Regions from separate parts of the Homo sapiens genome. Here region 1 is linked to region 2. The links come from fine-mapping of genetic effects on gene expression. A gene starts in region 2. The other region holds a variant in brackets. All regions are shown on one strand. Distances are between the middles of the regions. Region 1 overlaps FCHO1 (FCH and mu domain containing endocytic adaptor 1). Region 2 holds the start of FCHO1 (FCH and mu domain containing endocytic adaptor 1).

The links. PIP is the estimated chance that this variant, and not a neighbour inherited with it, causes the effect.
Region 1: its variant is fine-mapped to the expression of FCHO1 in whole blood (INTERVAL, PIP 0.92).

What each region holds. Positions count from the first base shown.
Region 1 is chr19:17,780,121-17,785,485 of GRCh38, reverse strand. It overlaps FCHO1 (FCH and mu domain containing endocytic adaptor 1), which reads right to left. Exons shown (of 29, transcript NM_015122.3): 21 at 4,143-4,255; 22 at 3,947-4,034; 23 at 3,666-3,774; 24 at 2,314-2,469; 25 at 1,251-1,383; 26 at 562-761. Among named protein-coding and RNA genes, the nearest start is that of B3GNT3, 12 kb to the left of the region's middle. The variant T/G (reference allele first, on the strand shown) is at 2,807.
Region 2 is chr19:17,748,572-17,753,936 of GRCh38, reverse strand. It overlaps FCHO1 (FCH and mu domain containing endocytic adaptor 1), which reads right to left and starts at 2,460. Exons shown (of 29, transcript NM_015122.3): 1 at 2,360-2,460. It overlaps FCHO1-AS1 (FCHO1 antisense RNA 1), which reads left to right and starts at 2,540. Exons shown (of 5, transcript XR_007067152.1): 1 at 2,540-2,721; 2 at 3,187-3,279; 3 at 4,574-4,654. RefSeq lists an enhancer at 1-302.

The DNA.
Region 1 (5,365 bases), 32 kb before region 2:
TTTGGGAGGCCGAGGCGGGTGGATCACCTGAGGTCAGCAGTTCGAGACAAGCCTGACCAACATGGTGAAACCTCATGTCTACTAAAAAAACACAAAAATCAGCTGGGTGTGGTAGCAGGCACCTGTAATCCCAGCTATCCGGGAGGCTGAGGCAGAGAAAATCGCTTGAACCCGGGAGGCGGAGATTGCAGTGAGCTGAGATCGTGCCACTGCACTCCAACCTGCACGACAGAGCGAGACTTCATCTCAAAGTAAATAAATTAAATAAATAAATAAATAAACAAAATATTTTTTGTAGAGATGAGATCTCACCATATTGCCCAGGCTGGTCTCAAACTCCTGGCCTTAAGTGATCCTCCCACCTCAGCCTCCCAAAGCACTGCAATTACAGGCATGAGCCACTGCACCTGGCACTCATAACATCACCCTTAGTGCTAAGCAGGGTGGGCTCACAGTTAACGGTCAGGCCGAGGGTGCACCCTTTAATCAATGCATCAGGGAGAAGGTCTGGGGTTATGGGGGAAACTGCTGAGTTTTCCTTGGCCTCCCGCAAGCCCTCACCAGGTGGCAGCCGGCTGCAAGCGGACGTTGGTCACAGGCTCCCCCACAGGCAGCAGGATCTGGACGTTCGTGAGTGGTGTGGGCACAGCCGTGGCACCGGGCCGGTAGCCGTACTCCACTGAGACCTGGGTGAGGGTGGCTCCACACTGCCAGTGGGCACTGAGCTGCAGAGGCACAGACTGGGGACCCGGGCGGGAGAACTAGGAAGAATGAGAATGAGAGAGAGGACACAGCTTGGGCCATCCTGTCTTGCCACACCATGCGCTATTCAACCACCTTGACCCTGCGATGCACGCACCGCCCCAAGGGGGTCCAGTCACAGGGAGATTTGATGGATGAGAGGCTGTATTACACCAGGTTTCCAGCAGGGGGCAGGAGAGCGCCTCATTCTAACAAAGTCTCCCAGGGAAGTTCAAGTGTAAGGTTCCGGGGCTGGGCTGCTTCTAGTTCACATAAACATACTATCTGCAACAGGGGATGCACGCTCTTCCACACTGCCTACTCCTCCACCGTTCATTCCCGACCCACACTGCCTACTCCCTCCAGCTCATCGGCTCTCACAGATTGGATCTCTTGAGGTCAGGAATTCGAGACCAGCCTGGCCAACACGCAGGCGCCTCCATGTCTGCTGCCGGCTCACCGTGTCCCCCACTCCACCACCTCCTCCCGGCCCCATGCGGGTGGCGCACCTGGTATCGCAGCAGCACCACGTTGTAGTAGGAGGCAGTGGGGTTCTGCTCTGCCTGGCGCTGCAGGGCTTCGGTCAGAGCTGCCATGTTGAGCCAGAAGTCTTTGGTCTCAGGGTCACTCTGGGAGGGGTCACTGCAGAGACCCGGACTGATCACCCCAATCCTCGGGACATGCCCTCCCAGGGCTCCCAGCATTCAATCTACCCCTTCCTAAAGATGCAATTTCCTGGCCCACCCTGGGCCCAGCAAAGCCCTACCTGGGTGGTTGTGGTGCGGGCAGTAAAGGAGGGATGGAAAACAAGGGTCAGAGAGGGCAAGTTACTTGCCCCACGCCACACAGCAAATCCCAGGAGGTGGCTGGGTGTGGTGGCTCATGCTTGTAATCCCAGCACTTTGGGAGGCTGAGACGGGTGGATCACCTGAGGTCAGGAGTTTAAGACCAGCTTGACCAACATGGTGCAACCCCATCTCTACTAAAAATACAAAAATCAGCCAGGCATGGTGGCACATGCCTGTAATCCCAGCTACTCAGGTGGCTGAGGCAAGAGAATCACTTGAATCCGGAAGGCGGAGCTTGCAGTGAGCCGAGATCACGCCACTGCACTCCAGCCTGGGCAACAAGAGCAAAACTCCATCTCAAAAAAATAATAATTAAAAAAAAAAAATCAAGCCGGGTGTGGTAGCTCACGCCTGTAATCCTAGCACTTTGGGAGGCCAAGGCGGGCGGATTGCCTGAGCTCAGGAGTTTGAGACCAGCCTGGGCAACATGATGAAACCCTGTCTCTACTAAAATACGAAAGAAATTAGCTGGGTGTAGTGGCACGTGCCTGTAATCCCAGCTACTTGGGAGGCTGAGGCAGGAGAATTGCTTGAACCCGGGAGGCGGAGTTGCAGTGAGCCGAGATGACGCCATTGCACTCCAGCCTGGGCGACAGAGCAAGACTCCGTCTCTACAAAAAAAAAAGAAAAGAAAAAATCCCAGGAAGCAGAGAGGGAACTCAGAGTCCGGAAGCCTGATCCCCAGCAGCCTCCGAGGCCCTCTCCCACTGCCCCTCCATAGTACCTGAACAGCAGATCGGCGTTGGGCTGGAAGTGCTCAATAGCGGTTGTGTGTACAAGCCGGAAGCTGAGGACAGGTGGTGGTGGGGTCCCGCTGAACACACGCACGATGCCAGCAGGGAAGGTCATGGTCAGCTCCCCAGTTACTCGAGCCAGGCAGCTAGGGAGGATGAGGGGACTGGGTGTTGGCTTAGGGCTCTGCCTGGTGCCTCATCCTTCCCCTTCTCTTGGTTTCACTGGTGCCTGTGGCTCCCCAGACTCCTCGGATCTAGGAGGATGGCCCTGATGATCCCCCGTATCCTTTCCCCCAACCTCCTCTTTCATTCCTGCCTGGACAGGAAGAATCCACCCTGGGCTGAAGGAGGCAGGAACATCTCCATCCCTAGTTCTCTTTTCTCCTAGGCCACCAGGAAGCTCAAATTAAAATGTTCAGTTTTTTAGCTATCCTTTGCTTGGGTTTTTGATCTGACACTCTCCTCTTCTTCATGGTTTGACTT[T/G]CAGATCTTTTCTGCTGAAGGCCACCCCAATATATATCCCTGCACTCCGCTTGTCCCTAACCCACGCCCTTACCCACTTACTGGGCCTAACTTCTAGTATTACTCCCTTCATCTTAATGCCCACGGCAGCCTTGGCGTCTACAGCAATGCATAGCCCTGCTTAAATGCTCTCCTATGGCTGGGCACAGTGGCTCATGTCTATCCTCCCAGCACCTTGGGAGGCTGAGGCAGCTGGATTACTTGAGGCCAGGAGTTCGAGACCAGCCTGGCCAACATGGTGAAACCCTGTCTCTACTAAAGACACAAAATCAGCAGGGTGTGGTGGCATGTGCCTGTAATCCCAGAATTACTCGGGAGGCTGAGGCAGGAGAATCTCTTGAACCCAGGAGGCAGAGGTGGCAGTGAACTGAGATCACGCCACTACACTCCAGCCTGGGCAACAGAGTGAGACCCTGTCTCAAAACAAACAAACAAACAAATAAACAAACAAAAAGCACAATAATTTAGTCGGGTGCAGTGGCACGCATCTGTAGTTCCAGCTACTCGGGAGGCTGAGACAGGAGAATTGCTTGAACCCGGGAGGCAGAGGTTGCAGTGAGCTGAGATTGCGAGATTGCACCACTGCACACTCCAGCCTGGGCAGCAAGAGCGAAACTCTGTCTCAAAAAAAAAAAAAAAAAAAAAAAAAAAAAGGCCCTCCTATGGCTCCACTGCCCTCAGGACAGGGGCCTGGTCACTTGGCTCAGTGTTCAAGGCCCTTTCACTATAAGACAGACCATGAAGCACATCTGAAAGCTGTCCCTGCTGGACTCCCCCAACACAGACTTCCCACGGGCCCTGTCTGCCCATCACTGGGTACCTGGGGCTGTGGCCACGGAAGTAGGCGTGGACATACTCTGTGAAGGCTGTGGCTATGGGCAGGGCATCCTGGGAGCCCAGGACCACAGGGCTCGGACCCCGGGAGACTCCTGGGGGTGGTGGAGAGGGAATGGGGAACAACGGATAGACAGTGTGAATATAGGCTCCAGGCTCGAGACTCCCTCCGCCCAACCACACCTCTGCCAACAGAGAAGCCACCCACCCAGACCAGAGAAGGTGACACTGAGGCCCAAAGCCAGGCCCAGGACCGCCCTCACATACCGTGTCCTGTCTGGGATAAGAAGCTGGGCCGTTCCAAGGCAGTGCTGGCGGCTGAAGAGCCCAGTGGGGAGGGGCTCAGGGAACGAGACTGGAAGGGAAAGAGACAATCTTGGCTGTGAGTGCCCCAGGACCAGTGCCCAAAAGCGGACCCCAGACGCGACCCCCAGTCCAGCTCCTGCCACGCCCCCTCACCTACCAGGTCCCCATTGCTACGTGTGAGAGGGCAGGACACCTTCCTAGAGCGAAGTCTCCTGGGTGGGGCTGCCAGGCCCTCCCTGGCTGTGGGGTCAGCAGGTGCAGGCATCAGGTCTAGGAGCGAGTACAAAGAGGCACTGCTGAGATGCTGCCCGGGGCCTCTGGGGCCTCCCCAGGGGCACAAACTCAGCCAAAATCTTAGGAGGTGGGCTTTTCTGCAGAGACCCCCAATGGGTCTGAAGTCCTGGTGTTGCAGAAAAGGTGCCAGACAGGACTGCAGATACTGTCCACACCCCCAACCCTCCCAGACACCAGAATGGTGGCCCAATAAGGGGTGAGCTCCCCATCACTGGGGGTATGCAAGCAAGCACTGAAGGCTTAAGACGCAGGCATGCTGTAAGGGGGGTTCAGCAGAGGATTTTTAGCCAACATTCAGCCATTTTGTGACCTCTACCCTTTCCGAGAACCTGACTGCAGCCACCTACTGTGGTCTGTGTCTGAGTCTCATGCCTTTAACACCCAAGCTCCCCTCCCTCTCCTGCTTCCTCAGGGTCCTGGTTCTGTTCCATCTATGAACGTGCTCCCTTGCTTGCCAACCTCCCCTCCCACCTACCTCCCCTCTCACCTGTACCCCAAGCTGTGCTCCCCGCTCTACCCGACTTTCTCAGCCTCAGCACTGTGGATATTTGGGGGCTGGACCATTCTCGGGGGCGGGGGCTGCCCTGTGCACTGTAGGGTGCTGAGCAGCAACCCAGGCCTCCACCCACTGAATGCCAGGAGCACCACTCCTGCCTGGTGGTGACAACCAAAAATGTCTCCAGACACTGACAATGTCCCCTGGGGGGGCAGAATTTGCAGGGTTGGATAAGAGCCTCTACTCAGGCCGGGTGCGGTGGCTCACGCCTGTAATCTCAACACTTTGGGAGGCCGAGGCAGGCAGATCACCTGAGGTCAGGAGTTCGAGACCAGCCTGTCCAACATGGTGAAACCCCATCTCTACTAAAAATACAAAAATTAGCCACGTGTGGCGGTACGCACCTGTAGTCCCAGCTACTTGGGAGGCTGAGGCAGAAAACTGTTTGAACCTGGGAGGCAGAGGTTGCAGTGAGCCAAGATCACACCACTGCACTCCAGCCCGGGCAACAAGAGCAAAACTCCCTCTCAAAAAAAAAAAAAAAAAAAAGAGCTTCTTCTGCCCCCACTCTGTGGTCTCCACCCACTCAG
Region 2 (5,365 bases):
CCAGCACTTTGGGGGACCGAGGCGGGCAGATCACTTGAGGTCAGGAGTTTGAGACCAGCCTGGCCAAAGTGGTGAAACCCTGTCTCTATTAAAAATACAAAAATTAGCCAGGTGTGGTGGCGGGCACCTGTAATCCCAGCTACTTGGGAGGCTGAGACAGGAGAATCGCTTGAACCTGGGAGGCGGAGGTTGCAGTGAGCTGAGATGGCGCCACTGCACTCCAGCCTGGGCGACAGAGTAAGACCCTGTCTCAAAAAGAAAGAAAGTTAGTTAGTTTAATTGGACCCATTATCATTGAGCCTCCAATCCCGGGACTTCTGTGAGTCACCCAAGACCTCCTACTTGCTCACCCAGACTAGAACAATGTCAGGGTCCCTGAGTTGATTCAGCCTCGGGCCTGGCCCTGCAGGAGTCCCCAGTCTAGAGAGACAGAGCTGGACACAGATATCACCGTCCTGCATGGTCAGGGCTGGGCCAGATGGAGGGACAAGGTCCAAAAGAACCTGGACTAAAGGAGGGCTCATGGGAGTTGGGGTTTTAAAGCATGAATAGGAGTTCACTGGGCAAGGAATTATTTGTTTCAACAAACATTCCCAACCCTGCACTGGTTAATGACAGGGCCCCTGAAAAACTTCAGTCCCCACCACACCCCCTTAGGAAACCTAGTTTGGTGGCAGGGGTAGGGTGGTGAGCATGCTACACTGACATCCCTAGGGGAAAAGCCCTAAATTTCCATATCATTTCTTAGCTTCTGTCCATGACCAGGACCCTAAGCATCTCCAAATCTCTTAGAGCTGTGCTGACTGGCATGGGAACCACTAGCCCCATGTGGTGACTTAATTTTTTTTTTTTTTGGAGACAGGGTCTCGCTCTGTTGCCCAGGCTGGAGTGCAGTGGTGCGATCATAGCTCACTGCAGCCTCCACCTCCCAGGCTCAAGGGAGCCTTGAATAGTAGCCTCCCGAGTAGCTGAGACTACAGGCTCACGCCTGAATAATTTTTGTATTAAGTTTTTTTTATTTTTTTATTTTTTCTGGAGACAGGTTCTTGCTCTGTCACCCAGGCTGGAGTGTGCAGTGGCATGATCACAGCTCATGGCAGCCTCGACTTCCCAGGCTCAAGTGATCCTCCCATCTCAGCCACCCGAGTAGCTGGGACTACATGTCTAACTAATTAAAAATAAATTTTTTTTTTTTTTTTTGTAGAGACTAGGTCTCACTAGTGTGGCCCAGGCCAGTCTCGAACTCCTGAGCTCAAGCCATCCTCCTGCCTGGGACCCCCAAAGTGCTGGGATTACAGCCATGAGCCACAACCCCTGGCCTTAATTTTTGTATTAATTTTTGTATTAATGTTAAACCAAGTAAAATTAAATACAATTGGCTGGGCGCAGTGGCTCACGCCTGTAATCCCAGCACTTTGGGAGGCCGAGGTGGGTGGATCACTTGAGGTCAGGAGTTCGAGACCTGCCTGGCCAACATGGTGAAACCCCATCTCTACCAAAAAATATAAAAATCAGCAGGGCGTGGTGGCACACACCTGTAGTCCCAGCTACTTGGGAGGATGAGGCAGGAGAATCACTTGAACCTGGGAGGCGGAGGTTGTAGTGAGCCAAGATTGCCCCACTGCACTCCAACCTGGTTGAAAGAGTGAGATTCTGTCTTAAAAAAATAATAATTAAATACATACATACATACATACATACATACATACAATTATATGCCCAGCTCCTCAGCTGTGCCAGCCTCTCTTCCAAGGCTCAGTAGCTACATGGGGCTGATGGCTGCTGTATTGGATGGCCAACATTGTTCTAGAAGATCCCAGGAACCAAGGAGCCCAAGTTCCCCAGAAACCAAGAATCTCACTACTGTTTTCACAGTTTCAATTAGATTGCCTCACCCCACCTCTGGCAGACAGATACACATGGAGCACCAGTATGTGTGCGACCCTGTACCCAACTATTCACACGCATCTGCTCATCCAATCTTCATGCCATGCCCTCAGAGGCAACCCCAACTTTATGAAGGAAACCGAGGCACAGAGAGATCAATCATTGGTCCCGGCTGACTGTGATTTTGCCCCTGGTCTGTCTGCCAATGACCTCCTGTTTGAAACCATCACGCGTGGCTCTCTGGGTTTCCAAGCTCCCCTTGCCGCCCCCCTAACCCAAACCACCACTCACAGCTGGAATGGGGGACGGGGGGCAGGGCAACGGGTGGCCCCATGCAGGCTTTGGCCAGCCCAGGAAGTGACACCTGCTACTTCTCCTGAAACCCAGGCTCCGGGCAGGGGGGCCTCCCCTCTGTTCCTGAGGGGGGCCAAGGCGAGATGATGGGTATCTACTGGCCAGGGCTCAAACTCACCGGACAGGGTAGCGAGTGGGATGGGGCCCCTGTCTGACGGGGCAGGCGCCAGGAGACAGCCACGAGGCCACTTCCGTCAGCACCAAGTTGGAGGCTTGTGTGCATGGGTTGGGGGGGGGACAGGAAGCTCACCCCGCCCCGCCTACCATCCAACCGCCACCTTTCCTCCCCCGCCCGATCAGCACCCATGGGACCTCCCTGGAACCACACAGGCCATGGGTGAGTAAACAAGAGGCGCTTGAACCTGGAGCCCCCCGGCCTGAACCTGGAGCTGTTCTTACCGAACAAATATTAATCATGGCAATTGGGAAATAACTGAGCACCAACCCTGGCCCAGGCATTCAACATCTTGCCATCCTGAGGTAGGCCGATACCCACTTCACAGACTGGGCAAACTGAGGCTCAGAGAGGGAAATGCGCTCAGAAAGGGGAAGACATGGCCAGGCGCGGTGGCTCACGCCTGTAATCCCAGCACTTTGAGAGGCCAAGGTGGGTGGATCACGAGGTCAAGAGGTTGACACTATCCTGGCCAACACGGTGAAACCCCGTCTCTACTAAAAATACAAAAATTAGCTGGGCGTGGTGGCCCATGCCTGTAGTCCCAGCTACTCAGGAGGCTGAGGCAGGAGAATCACTTGAACCCGGGAGGTGGAGGTTGCAGTGAGCCAGAGGTTGCAGTGAGCCGAGATTGCGCCACTGCACTCCAGCCTGGCGACAGAGCGAGACTCCATCTCAAAAAAAAAAAAAAAAGAAAAGAAAGGGGAAGACATTTTTGCATTCATGAGCGCTTTCCTTCACTACAAAAGAAATTTAAAATTATATTTTAGGTGGTGGCTGATGCCTGGAATCCCAGCACTTTGGGAGGCCGAGGCAGGTGGATTGCTTGAGCCCAGGAGTGCGAGAACAGCCTGGGCAACATGGTAAAACCCCGTCTCTACTAAAAATACAAAAGTTAGCTGGGTGGGGTGGCATATGCCTGTAATCCCAGCTACTCGGGAGGCTGAGGCAGGAGAATCGCTTGAACCCAGGAGATGGAGGTTGCAGTGAGCGGAGATCGAGCCACTGCACTCCAGCCTGGGTGACAGAGAGAGACTCTGTCTCAAAAACAAAACAAAACAAAACTGTATTTTACAACTACATTGACATAAAGACAAATATATTAATATTATACACAAAAATGTTTCCTTCAACCCAAGAGTTCATTTTTTTCCCTTTGGATTTTAAAAGAAGTGAAAACATCAACCTAGGGACCCCTAAAAGCACTGTGAGCCTGAGACACTGGGCATTTTGGGTCTGATGGAGAAGTCAGCCCTGCTAGAACCCAAGTCTCCCAGCCTGTACAGTACCAGCACAAAGCCCAGAGATGGCCGGAGACTTGCCCAAGGTTACACAGCACATTGCCAGCTGACTCAGAGGTCCCCATCCTGCCTTCCCGGCACCAAGTCTTGCAAACCTGGGGCTGAGACATGTGAGCAGCCCCAGAACAGATAAAACAAAGCAGGAACCACATCAGCAACAAAGGCAAGACCCGAGCTCCCATCCTGGGAATCGAGTGGTGCCTGGCTGGGTGTCCGGAGCCGCTGACGTCTTGCCTGATGACCTTGGGCCACTCCTGACCTTCCACGATCTGGCTTCCAGGATCCTGGGAAACAGGATCTCACATTTCCCTCTCTCTTGGACCCCAGTGTATGTACAGTAGGGCCAGTAGCAAGGGTTTTCTCATCCTTCCCACGGACCAGTCACTTGGTTCAAGCAGGTACCATGCTGTTTCAATGACCCACTATGTCATGTCTCCCCTCTTGGCCTCGCCACCTGGGCTGCGATCACAGACAATCTGGCTTGATTCTCGTCACCACACCTCAAGGCAGTATCTTATCTCAACCAGCACCACGATGGGGAAACTGAGACACGTGCCCCAGGTCACACAGTGACTCGGGCCACCAAGTGGGAATCTGAGCCAGGGATTCTCAGAAATTTTCTGTCCTCCCCATGGGTCCCCTCCCTCTTCCTCACTTCATTTGGCAAACATCTATTGAATGCCTACTGTGTACCCAACTTTCCCAGGTGCTGGAGTCTCCTCAGGCAATGCCTTTGATAGACTCCCCCTTCCCCTCCCTCCTCCTGGTCAGCTGTGACCCGATTTAAAGAGCACTAATACTGTCATTAATATTATAATAATCATGTCTGTATTTACAGAGCTTCCTCCTCCCACAGACTCCTCCCATCTTCCCAGAGGAATTCAGCCCATTTCACAGAAGAACAAACAAAGGCACCAAGGGAAAAACACACACACAGGTAGAGGCAAATTCAAACCTGGGGGTGTCAGACTCCCAGCCCCATGCCCACCACTGGGAGGGCGCTCCAAGGGACAGGGAATGAGCTGGCCTGGCAACTCCCACCCCCTCCTGCCCAGGACCTCGCCCGAGAACAGGTTCACCCCTGGCGTGGGTGATGGTATGTGGGTCAGGGTGTGCCCTAAGTGGCCCCAATGGTGAGACCAGGGTGGCGATGCCCCATCCCAGCCATTGCAGCTTGGTCCTATGTTTTACTCCCTGTCCCCATGCCCTCAGCCCCAATATCAGAGTGTCATCATCAACCCATTTTGCAGTGCAGTAAACTGAGGCTGAGAGGATAGCAAGGCACTGTGGGAGGGTCTCCAAACCCAATGCTGTCTTGACCCCAAACCACCCACATGTTAAGCAAAAGAGTGAATCACCATTGGACAAAATGTGGGCTGGGTGAGTTCAGAATCTGTAAAATGCAGGGTCCGAAGCTCCCAACCTCAATTTTCAAAAGAGGAAACCGAGGTTCAGAAAGGTGCTGTCACCTGCCCAAGGTCACCAGTGAAGCAGGTCCATTCGACACTGCCTCCTGGTCCCCAGTGCAGCTGGGGCAGGTGACTCGGGGGATCCAAGGCAGATGGAGGGGTCCCCCACCCCCCAAGCCTCCTCCGCACCCCACTCACAGCCAGCCTCTGGCAAGATCCTAATTTACCTCGATTTATTT